Regions from separate parts of the Homo sapiens genome. Here regions 2 and 3 are each reported to be linked to region 1. The links are microRNA targets in miRTarBase. Many come from high-throughput screens and were not tested one by one. Region 1 holds a microRNA gene; each other region holds the end of a gene's coding sequence.
What was found. Region 1 holds the annotated microRNA hsa-miR-223-3p (UGUCAGUUUGUCAAAUACCCCA, at 1,943-1,964, shown strand). A microRNA usually pairs through its seed, bases 2 to 8, with sites in the 3' UTR of a target mRNA and lowers its output. Matches are read on the target gene's strand: a 7mer-m8 pairs with bases 2 to 8, a 7mer-A1 pairs with bases 2 to 7 and ends in A, and an 8mer does both.

Region 1 (4,152 bases):
CAGCCAATGAGTGTAATGATACAAAAAAGGTAACAATCCATTTCTTTTTCTCCTGCCATCCCCAACTCAGACTCTGTTAATCAGCTTGCTTGGCTGGCCTCCAACCATAGGTCCAGGGGCTGAGACAAGGTCCTTTTGAGCTCCTATGTGGGAGGCTCTGGAAAGCTTAGCAACACTTTCCAACAACTTTGCCAGGTAAGTAGGTAAGTCTCCTTGTTCTCATTTCCAGAGAAGACAACTGAAACCCAAAGAAAGACTTGCCCAAGCCATGATTGGCTAGTTGATGGCCAAGACAGCATTAGAACACAAGTTTGTCGATTCTGTCATGCCATATTTGGTGACCATGACTGCTGCTTTTGCTGCTGGGTGGATTAGGCTGAATTGGGTAGGTAGAAAAGGAAGTGAGGGAGTGAAAGAGCTTTAGTTTTGAGATGACTGCCAGAACTTAAATTGAAGGAGTATGTTACCTTCTTAACATTCAATTAAAAGAATAGAGCAAGAAAAGACACTGATTGTTTTCTTGCTGAAAGACAAGGCTGAATCCCTCTGTCTTACCTGGGCTGGGACAGGGCTTTCCGGCCTCATGGGGGCAGTTTACCATTTCTGGTAACCTTGTGATGTTTGCCACTTTTCATGACAATATTTAATGTAGACCAGCTACCTGCTCACAGATCAACTGCCACAGCTGGTAAGGGCAGTAATTTGACACCAGCAACCTGGGATTTTTAGCAACAGGATCTGATTGTTGCCAAGGGAATTCTCCCAGAAGTTTCAGACCTGACCCTGCTCCTGGCAGCTTCCTTATTGCCCTGGTGGCTTGTGGGTTCAGTGATCCCAAATGTTGCATTACAAAGCTATTGCCTGTTTTTGCCCTCTTTGTTGATGTGTCTTCCCTTTCCCAGAGGGATATACAGAGAAGGGAGGCAAAATAACCAATGAGGAAAGCTGTATAAGGCATACTGCTGAACTGTAAAAAATTTATTGTATAAACTTTACAAGTCTCCTCCCCAACAGGAGCCTTTGTTATCTCATTTATAACCTAAGTGAGTGAGACTAGATGATCTTTAAGGGCACTTTAATAGCTGCCATTCTTGAGTCCCTATGGGACAAGAGGATCATGTTAGGCAAGGCTGAGACCACAAGAAATCAATGTCACACCTGTCCAGATCCTGCTAAATCAATTGCCAATAGCTCTTTCTTTCATTTTGGTCACACAACCACTACTTTTTGAGCATTTGTTATGTATTGAATACTGAACCAAAGGCTTTACATGCATTATCTCCTGTCATTCTCACAATAACCTTATGAGGTAGGTATTATACTTACATACATTTTGTGGGTGTAGAAAACTTGAGCTCAGAGAGGTGAAATGATGTATCCAAGGTTGCCTAACTAGCTAATGGAAGAACTAGGATTTAAGCTCATGTTTAACCTCAAAGCCTATGTGCATAACCACAACACTGAAAACACAGCTTGGGAGAATTGAGAAGAGGGAGCAAGGATGCTGACTCTAGGGTCTGGTACTTTCCTCAAGTCAGGGAGGCAGGATGATGACCAAATTTTCCCCTCTCTGCTGCATAGAGGAACCCACTGAAGCTTGGGACCCCTAGAAATGCCATAGCTACAGGACTCAGGCCTGATGAGCTTCCAGCTGAGCACTGGGTGTCACTCGGGCTTTACCTGCTTATCTTCAGGATCTCTCTTCTGGTTAGGAACCCTATGCCTATTTTGCTCACTTCCCTATTCTGGTGCTTTGGTTGGTCCTTTGAGCAAGATCCCCGGGGCTAAGGGTGTGACTTCATCATTCCTTTCTCTCTCTTTCCCTCTAGGGTCACATCTCCCAGGAAGATCTCACTTCCCCACAGAAGCTCTTGGCCTGGCCTCCTGCAGTGCCACGCTCCGTGTATTTGACAAGCTGAGTTGGACACTCCATGTGGTAGAGTGTCAGTTTGTCAAATACCCCAAGTGCGGCACATGCTTACCAGCTCTAGGCCAGGGCAGATGGGATATGACGAATGGACTGCCAGCTGGATACAAGGATGCTCACCAAGCACCAAGTTCTCACAAGTTATTTTATGTGACTTTGCAGGAACTGAGGCATTATATCTGAGGACACCAGGGGAAAAGTGTGGCATCTCAGGGAAATACAGCCCTGGGCTGTGTCTACACACACCATGAGAGTGCTGATGGGGGCGCAATAGTCTTGAAAATGTATAAAGTGTCCAGGAATGGAAGTGCTCTTTGATTCATTATTATTTTCTTCCTTCATATTCCCCTCCCAGAGTCTCCTATCTAGGACATCAGCATTCTCACACAAGCCTAATGGCTTATCTGAGTAAGCAGGGCTTAGAAATTCACTTTCTTGATACTCAGTCTTGCCTTCTAAACACTCCTTGATCTTGCCTACCTCTCCCCTTTTCCACATGTCTTTTCCTGTAGGAACACTTTCTCCATTTATTCCTGCCTATCCAATTCTTCCCTATATTTCCTGGACCAGCTAAAGTCCAGTGTTTCCAGAGACTTTTGAAAGTCAACTTACACTTTTTCCTTCTTCATTCACAAAGCTCTTCTTCCCTGGGCCCTGGTATGTATGCCTTTCTCTCCTACTGTCTAATAGCACCTCGTAAATTGTCAATGAACTTTTCTAAGGGGTATTCTTGAATTCCCAACTAGATTGTGAGCTTCTGGAAGACAAGGCTATGTCTTTGATTGTTGTCTCCCCTACCACAGCCCAGTACTTTAGTTACAGAAAATAATAAATATTTACTGATTGATTGACTTTCCTCTTGTCCACTAGCTTTAGGTTTGGGGGCCAAATTCTACCCTGGATTTTGAAAAATTCAAACTGTGAACACCACAATGTTATAGAGCATATGAGGTAGTAGCCAGCATGAAGGATGTTTTCTTCCTGAGAAACAGTGTCAAGGGCTGGAGGAAGAGGGCAAAATAGCAGACTCAGAGGGCAAATAAATTTTGGTATTACTTGGTCACACAAGGTTATACAGGTGTTTTCTTGTAGGATTTTTCAGAGCCTTTAATAGTCTAATGTTGCATTGAGAATCTCAAAGAGGAAACCATAGAATGAGGCATTTGCCATACCTATCTGATCATGAATTTTCTTTTCCCCCACAGCCTTCTCCTGTGTCAATGTCCAATGAAGCACGATTTGGGAAACTGTCCTAGAGAAACTTTATACCTTCCCGCTCTTCTGGAGATCTTTTCCTCTTTTCATTCATCTACTTTCCCCAACCAGCCATCTGCCTAAGAAAGGTCACATGTTATCATCTCATTTTTGTTTAGCCTCTGCAGCTGTGGACTATCTTTATTACATAGGAATTCTTTACTAGCTTGTCCTGTATTTAAAAATATTCTAAGTTTTGAGGCAAAGAAGATCCAGATGCTGCAATAAATATATGCACTGAGGAGTTCACAGGCCTGACTTTTGGTCTCCTTTCTACCACTAACTGTGTTTTTGTTCCTCTCTGAGCTTCATTTTCTCATCTCCAATACGGAAGTATTAGAATCAGTGATCTCTAGGCTCTTTAAGATTAATGACTTTGAGATATCCCTGGGAGTCCTTAGCTCTTATGGAGCAGCGTCCCTGGATGTGTGGCTCCTTTTACCAGTGAAAATGCAACCAGGATTCTCTTCCCAACACCTAAAACTCACTTTTTCTATGGGTAGTAGGGAAAGATAATGGGTATTTTCAAAGGCTGTAGGGTCTGGACGCAGAGTTGTTTCATGAAGGAAGTTGGGGTTTCCACTGGGTGGAGGCCCTATTTCAGAGGCTTGTAAGCACGATGGGGAAGAAAGAGTTGTTCCTTTCGCCAACTAGGAGAAGCTAGCGTCTGGAATGAGGAAAATGTTGAGGTTTTTACCCTGGATTTGGCATGTTGGGTGGCGGTGAAGTGGAGGACTCCTTTTTGTTACTTTCGTGTACTATTTTGACTTCTGTAATCATTGCAAAAGGGGAGCAGCTCCTTGTGAAACATGAGCTGACCTAGGGGCTGCATGGGAACCAGAAATAGCAACATGGCAGCTTCCTTGAAGAGTGCAGAAGTTGATTTGACATTAATTACATCGAGAAAATAAAACTGTGTCAACCTGGGTCAGAACAGGTCCTCACAGCGGAGCCTGATTTAAAGGTGTAGG
Region 2 (4,000 bases), not on the chromosome of region 1:
GTTTCCTGCTGCTTTCTGGACAATGAAACATGAACAAAAATGTAACTTCGTGTATTTAATACTTAACCCCTGTTCGTTATCACCCTAGACTGCCTCCCTAATGTTTTAAAGCCTTTAAAACATTTTTTCCTGCAAATCTGTTCAGAGTTCCCTAATTTTAGCTTCATCAAACTTAATACAACAAAATACCTTCAAAAATACAGCATACCTGTAACGTCCATTTACAATGGTTTTTCAGTAGACCTATACTTCTCAAGCATAGGAATATGCTATACCATTGAGAGAAAAAAATAATTGTATTTAAATACTTACAAAAAAAAAAAAAAAAAGGAAACAGGAAAGTTTTAAACTTAAATCCAGTTCCCAAAGGGGGGGTAAAAAGAAAGAAAAGCAATTCTATGAACGCTGCCTTTATAATGAACGATCAGAAATTTTACTAGGCTAATTTGACAGAAATTTTTCCTCATTTAAACAACATTACAAAAGTCCTGCATTATAAAATAGGGTAGAATAAATCAGTGTAATCAATAAAACTATACAACAATACAAATTACATATCTTCTGAGCGGGCAGTTTATTCTCTCTCTTTGCAGTCATGACTACAACATGCTCACTAAAAACAACTAAAACTGCCCAAACTATTGCTTAGTTTGTTTTGTTTAAAAAAGGGTGCAATTTTATTGTATATACAACCAATTTACTGGTAATACCTTGGCTTATTGCAAGGTTCTGACAAAATGTTTGTCTAGGCTTTTTTCCCTTCACTGTGAAGCACTGAAAGCTGCTATTTTTTCTTTTTTTTTTTCTTTTTTTCCTTTTTTTCATTTTTTAGTGCACATATGTCATAATAAAGTAATGCCCAGCTAAGTGCTATAGGGGAAGGCAAAGTATGCTGGCTGGCTATAGGAAGTGACACCATACACTGACAATCACACCATACAACAGCGCCAAACGACTATTCAACCACTTATCAGACACATATGAAAATCCAAAATGTTTTATTTTATTTTTTTTTCCTTAAATAGAGATAACCAGTAAACAATTTTCAGAACTTGGAAGTTTAAAAACGTGCATATAAAAATGGGCATTATATACTTTTTATTGAATGTGGATTGACTGCAGTCTGCTAAGAAAAATGGGGTGTGGGAGCTGAAGAAAAAGGAAGTTGTCTTTTTTTTTTTTAAGGCTTGCTTGTGAAAGGAACAGTTGTAAAAACAAAATTGCTTGAAGCAGGGTCAGCTTAGTGCTTCACAGTTTGACTGCTTCTCTAAGAGGAGCCCTTCCTGCGCACGTGCATTCAAAAATCACAAAAAAGTACAAAGACAAACACCTAAAACACACTGCGTCAAGTGCAGCACCGACTTTGGTCAAATAAAAAAAAATAAAAGAAAAATTAATAATTGCTAAGCTTTTCTACATGATATAAGCAGGTATTGCATATTTTCATATATCTGGGGGAAAATAAAGGAAGACTCCAAATAAATTGTAAAATGCAGCAACATCCAAAATACTGATATTCTAAGCATCTACAGATCTCAGAATAGCACTGCCACCGACCGTACAGGACAATAAAGACTACTCCTATCTGCGGAACAACTAGCTTTCTATTTAGTTCTAGATGTTGAAACTGACGATGGCTGACATAAAAGTCACATTTACAAAAAGTGTCTCCAAATGCTTGACTAGGGAAAAACCCCTTTCAATAGAGGAGCATGTGCAACAATTCCACAAATAATCGCTATCCAGGGCAAGGCACATTGATATGGAATTTTTGTTTTCGTGCAAATTAAGGAAAAAAAACAAAACAAAACAACATTGTTTCGGGGAGAAAGATGAGGAGCAAAGTGTCTTCCCAAGAATTTCAGTTACTTGATTGTATAGGACAGTAGTAGAACCCTTCTGAAGGGCTGAAAAACATAGTTTAAAGGCAAGTGCCTAGAGTAGGGATTACAATATTGTGTCTTAATGCACTCTACTTTATCCTACATTAACTATATAAAAATTAGTTACTAACACTAGAACATGCAGAGACTTTCTCTGATCAGCAGGGCTTGCCAACCAGAACGTATATATATGTATAGTATAGGAAACCTTCTTGAAGTCGCATGGGAAGCAAAGGGGTGCTTCGCTGTCTGGTAGAAAAATCACTTGCACTTTTTTTTGTTTTTGTTTCTGTGGTTTTTTGTGTTTTTTTTTTGTTTTTGTTTTTTGTTTTTTTTTTCATAAGATACAGGACGTTTGGGGGTGCAAACTTTTTTTTTTTTCCCTAACAAGTACCCTTGATCTGAATGGGCACCAGCATTTGTGTCAGTATTGGTTTCATCATTATTATTATTATTATTATTACTATTATTATTTCCCATAGCCCAGTTCAGGGATGCAAAGGTCTTTAAAACTTCTGGACAATCTCTGGTACAATGAGGTGTCTGATAACTGATAAATCCTATGATGCCAGATAGGTGTAAAATTTTTTAGAATTGGCGTAATCCATTATAGTGACTTCTAGCTTATAAAATTAACAGATACCATGATTTCATTTTAGTCATGTGCTTTGATAACAGAAAATAATTAATTAGCATTTAATGTAGTTAACATATTGTGGTAAAAGCACCATTAGATTTGTTTTTTTGTTTTTTTTTTTTAATTTCCTTCAGTTTTTAAAGGGATACAAGTTTAACAATAAAAAACATAAAAAGCAAAAATAGCTCCCCTTTTTCTTGCAAGGCTGTTTTTTACCCCAATAATTTAGAGTCCTGGGGTGAAAGGACTAGAAAAACAAAAATAGAATTTTCAACAATCTCTATCTTACAAAGATATTTAGCTATCCAATGAAATTGCACTTTACTCAATTCAAAATTCGATTGTTTTGATTGATTCCTGTCAGTTTCTGTCAAAACAGACCATCTTCCCCATTTCCATGTGAATTTTTGTGTCATTGTTGAAATTGTTGAAAAAATGTTGTTGTTGTTTTTTTAAATGTAAGTGCAGCATTTCAAAACTTTTAAAAAACTGAACAGTAGTAGTAGTAGTTTGCCATTTTCGGAATTGTTCTGCAATGTGAGTGGATTCATTGTCCTTGCGGGCCATGTTATATACTTAACTGCTGACTGCTGAACCAAAACAAACTAAAGGAACAAATAAAAAAGGAATATAACTGCATTTTCTTTTTCCAATATGTTACAGAAAAACATTGCCCTTTGACTGTCCCGTTATATATTGCAGATCTCAGCTACTACAAAAGATTTAGTTCTCCATGTGCCTCCTCAATGCTCAAGGAGGATCACACCTGTGTGGGTAAATTCATGAAATACTGTGAAACAGCCAGGCTCCGTAAGGAAAGTGTGTTACAACAGGAAGTCAGTGAGCAAGGGTAGTCCTCCGCTAGCCACGTCACCTAATGCTCACGCTACCATGGAAACACTTCAAATGTTACAAAGCCCAACCATTTCCAGCACCATATGAGAAATTACAACAGTCCCTAAAGTATTTTAAAAAAAAAAAAATCCCAAAAGGTTATGGCCTTTGCTGTTTGACCATAATGCTTGCTGTTTCCATGTACAAGTTGATTTGAATCGGTTTTTCTCCCCTTCCGCTGATAGTGAAGTTGTAACTGCGCTGGGTTGAGGTTGCGTCCATGTTACAGAGTTGAGAAGGGGTCAGGTGGTCTGTCTGGTGGATGGTGGGACGCTGCAACTTTTATCCCAGGTACCAGGACTGGAAGACAAAAGGAAAAATACAATTAAAATCACAATTTGTAAAAACGTGTGTTTTAGAAGTTGCCTTTTCAACCACGAAATCAGGATCTACGTTAGGGATGCGGGAGGGATTCGCTGGGAAAAGTAAAGGCACGACAGACAATAAAAAATCCTGTGACACTGAAACTGATCTTATTCTTCTGAAATTATAATTCATTGTCTTCATTGGGGTTTTCCAACATTCTGAGTATATCTTACAGAATGAGGTATTTCTGTTCACTTGAAATACAAATAAGGGTTTTGTT
Region 3 (4,000 bases), not on the chromosome of region 1:
TTCTGCCTGTTCTTACATCAGCCACTTTCAGAAAAATGGGAGAGACATTTTTTGCTGGTGAACAGGAAACAAAGCTCCAGACCCCTCTGGACATGATTGTTCCAGTCCATGCCTTTCTCACAACCTCTGAGCCATGCCAGTCTTGGATTGGGCTTTGCAGGAAGGAACAGGACCCCAGAGACAAAGTCGGGGGGTAGAGGTTATCCTGTTGGCACCTGGGGCACCACTTCAGACTCTGAATCATCTTTCTGGTATTGACTGTGGCTGGGTCATGGTCACAATGTCCTGTCCTGGATTTAGTTGTGCTGTGACCTTCCCCTAGCAAATGAAGAGTAGGGCGTGTGTGTGTGTGTGTGTGTGTGTGTGTGTGTGTGTGTGTGTGTGTGTGTTTGGGGGGTAGGGGGTGCGGCGATGGGAATGGATGATTCTATCCAAAAGAAGATTCACTTTCTTTTTATATTAAATAGGAAACCTGTTTTTAGTACAGTGCCTGTAATCCACAAAGATAAGATCTGCCCCACTTCATTCCTAGAAATCTACTTCTATGGCACCTGTTCTTTGTCTTAATTCATCTCACTTTCCCTCCCCACTCCCACATGCTTTCGGACTGCATGCTGAGAGTGCAGAACCAGCCTCATTCCTTCTCATGGGCTGTAGACCAAATGGGGCTTGACCAGAGCAGAGTGACAGAGTGGACCAAGAAACAAAAGAAATCGAGCCTTCCTCAGGTCTGCTCACGTGGGTCCCATAAATTCCATCCATAACTCCAAGTCCTTAAACAAGCCATGTTTCCCCAGGAAATTCAGGCACCTGTTTTCCTTTGTTTCATTTCCTGGCTTATGACTGTTCTGCCTGGACAAGGCTGTTCCATCTTTCGCTCTCCAGCAATAGCATCATCCTGAGCACTCTGTGGGTCTTCCTTCACCTTCCACAAAGCAACTCTTTCTTGGATTGATGGAGTCCGCTTCTGGGATTTCTTCCAAGCTGCTGAGATCTCTTTATTTCTAAAGGAAACCTAACAGTGGCCTTCCTTACTATCACACCCTCCCCTGGGACTGGCATTACCATCCTATGTGTGGAGAGCACCTGGGACAGATATAATTTAAAAGAAAGATGCCAGGGTAAGGCTTGGGAAGTGTAGAAATCATATGGGCACCTGGTCAGCAACATGAGGAAATGGAGGGTGTGGTGTGACGGCCTAGGGGTCAGGGAAACAATATGTTCTTGTCAGGCCCTACACCTGCTGGCTGACCTGGACCAGCCATTTAATCCCATGGGCCTCTGCTCCCTCAACTTTTAAAGGAAAGTGTTGGATCAACTGAACTCTAAAGTTTTTTTCAGTTTATTATTTCATGATCCCTAGTCAAACACTGATACCCCAAAATAGGATTTTCCTTCCTTCCTCTGAAGATTATTTCAAAAAATCCAAGAGGAATAACAGACTTTCTGGATGCTGCTCTACCATGTTCTTCTGTTAAATCAAGTTCCTTTTCCCGCAATTGAAGGATGTTGCAGATGTGAAACGTGTGGTAAAGAACATTGTCTTTGCTTTCAGGTCCCACCTGGCCCTTTCTGGCCGTAGCTGGTACTAGATTTTGATAAAAGTATCCTAATACTCAGGGACTATTTCTCAAAGACCAGAATCCCAAGAGCCAGAGACTGGATGAGAGACACAAAGCACAAGACAGCAATTTCCTTATGGCTCTCCAAGCAGGACACGCATGAGACCCTAGTAACCAGAAGCAAAGCTGGCAAAACTGTCTGCAGGAACAGAGAGGAAGGTAGAAAATTAGAGAAAAAAGGAGTGAAGCAACTTAGTGGCTCCTGACCCCTCCCAGATCTCCCTTCTGGGAACCCACTCCCCTATTAGGGAGATTTTCTCAGACAGTTCCTGCAGCTCCCAGGCTCTGCAGGGGCTAGAACCAACCACAGAAACAAGACCAAGGCACTGCTTCTCAAGAAGAAACTGACCTCATGCACTGTCTGAGTTACCTCAGCTAGAGAGGGTGAAAATCATCAGTTATCATCAGGGCAACAAATTGCTTTCTCCTAGTTCATCCTGGACTTACAATATGAAAGAGACATTTCCCAGCCCAACAGACAATACATAATTCCAATTAGCAAAGACCTCCAGGGTTGAGTGGACTCCTAGTGTTTTTTTGTTTTGTTTTGTTTTTTTATGACACGACTGCACGATGTGGATCTGGTCCTGCCTATGTGGTTGTTCTCAGGTACAGGAATGTGTCTAAGCATGGCCTCCAAAGGTCCCTTGGAAACCCCTGGCTGGTAGGGAACCCGCACTGTGCCATCAGCTACAGTCCACAAAGGTAAATGAACAGATGCCACCAGGAAATGAGGATGGACTGGCTCTGTGTGATCATAAGCTCAGAGCATCAGGGAAATGGTCATTTGAAACTAAGAAAACAGATTCAAATTATTCTGAGAAAACCGACTATTCACAGACTCGTGTCCCAGGTTTCAGAACCCGAAAATCTCACTCCTGATCAAAGGTTGCTGCTGCTGCTGCTGCTGCTGCTACTGCTATATGTGTGTGTGTATGTGCGTGCGCGGGTGCACACGCATGTGTGCGTGTGTGTGTGTGTGCGTGTGTGTGGTGCTGAAGAAGTGGAGGTTGCTTGGCCTTCTCTACTGGGTGTGGCCCTGATGAACTCACTGAGTGCTGAGGCTGGCTACAATGTCCTATCAGAGGGGAAGTAATACCACAGGAGCACATCAAGACTACAAACATAAAGAACCATGGACACTGATTTCATCCAAGTTCTACAGGGAGTGAACAAAGAAAAATAAATAAACAAAAGAAAGAAAAGAAAAATAGCCCTTTGTAGTAAAGGGCATGCTGGGAAGGCAAGAGCCAGAGCCGCCTCCCCAGAGCATGCTGGGAGGAGGGGCACCAGAGCCGCCTCTCTAGAGCATGCTGGGAGGATGGGCACCAGAGCCGCCTCCCCAGAGCGTGCTGGGAGGATGGGCACCAGAGCCGCCTCTCTAGAGCATGCTGGGAGACGGACACCAGTACATCTCCAAGGACTGCACTTCCCCCGACTCCCACCCCATTCCCTCACCCACCCCCAACCCGGAGACTAGAGGAAAGTCTGTCCAAAGATGACTGTGGAATAGGGAATGCCATGGTTCTCTGCAGGTCCCCCACACTATGGGGGGTTAAGTCAGCAAGTAGGGAAAACAGTCAAGACGAGGAGATGGAGAAACAGAGAGGCAGGAGAGAAACAGGGGGCTGACAAAGATGGAGGGGCCATTGTGTTGCCGGAGGACGAGGGGCTGCTAGCCGGAGGCATTGATGTACAGCTGGCTTTTGAGGATGTAGTCGATGACCGGCTGGGACAGGTAATCCACAACATGGCCGTCCCCATGCTGCAGGGCCAGCCTGCACAAGAAGAGATGACAATCAGATGGACATCCACACCCAAAGCAAGTCAGGAGGACTGGCATGCCCCTGTCTCCCCAGCACCCCATTTGTAGCCTTTTCTCAGGTTGAGTAAATAGTTCTGTATTAGGAAAGGCCCTCTTGCCTCCACAACTCCTTCCCCACCTTGGTGACATCATTCATCGTGGTTCTGCCACTTCCTAGGTGAGAGGCCTTGGGAAAGTTATTTAAGCCCCTCTGTTCTTCAGTTTTTTTCCTGTAAAATGAGGGTAATATCTGGGCCCCTCTCATTTAGTTATTCAAAGGATTAAATGAGTCATTATGCAAAGCACTTAGAAGAGTGCCAGACACACAGTGGGCATCTAATGTATTCACTATTCTTTTTTCTCAAATAAATTGTATTGTGTATATTTAAGTCATACAATCTGATGTTGTAAGATACACATATATTATCATCATATAATATAGTATATCTATGTTATATTACATATTTATTATATATTTTATAATTTATATATTATACTATATTATATTATTTATATAATAGTGTTAATATTATATTATATTATATTATTTATATAAGTGTTAATATTATATTAT

Region 2: miRTarBase lists NFIA as a target of hsa-miR-223-3p. Seed matches in the 3' UTR shown: 8mer at 2,879-2,886 and 7mer-A1 at 2,306-2,312.
Region 3: the mRNA of NMNAT2 is a reported target of hsa-miR-223-3p. The part of its 3' UTR that is shown has no 7-base or 8-base seed match.

The regions. Positions count from the first base shown.
Region 1 is chrX:66,016,995-66,021,146 of GRCh38, forward strand. It overlaps MIR223 (microRNA 223), which reads left to right and starts at 1,876; the gene lies at 1,876-1,985. MIR223HG (MIR223 host gene) reads left to right here. Exons shown (of 3, transcript NR_170299.1): 2 at 71-195; 3 at 1,830-3,432.
Region 2 is chr1:61,455,017-61,459,016 of GRCh38, reverse strand. It overlaps NFIA (nuclear factor I A), which reads right to left. Exons shown (of 11, transcript NM_001134673.4): 11 at 1-3,714. The coding sequence ends at 3,697. Among named protein-coding and RNA genes, the nearest start is that of NFIA-AS1, 200 kb to the right of the region's middle.
Region 3 is chr1:183,249,344-183,253,343 of GRCh38, forward strand. NMNAT2 (nicotinamide nucleotide adenylyltransferase 2) reads right to left here. Exons shown (of 11, transcript NM_015039.4): 11 at 1-3,400. The coding sequence ends at 3,298. It also overlaps a transcript of LAMC2 not described here. Among named protein-coding and RNA genes, the nearest start is that of LAMC2, 65 kb to the left of the region's middle.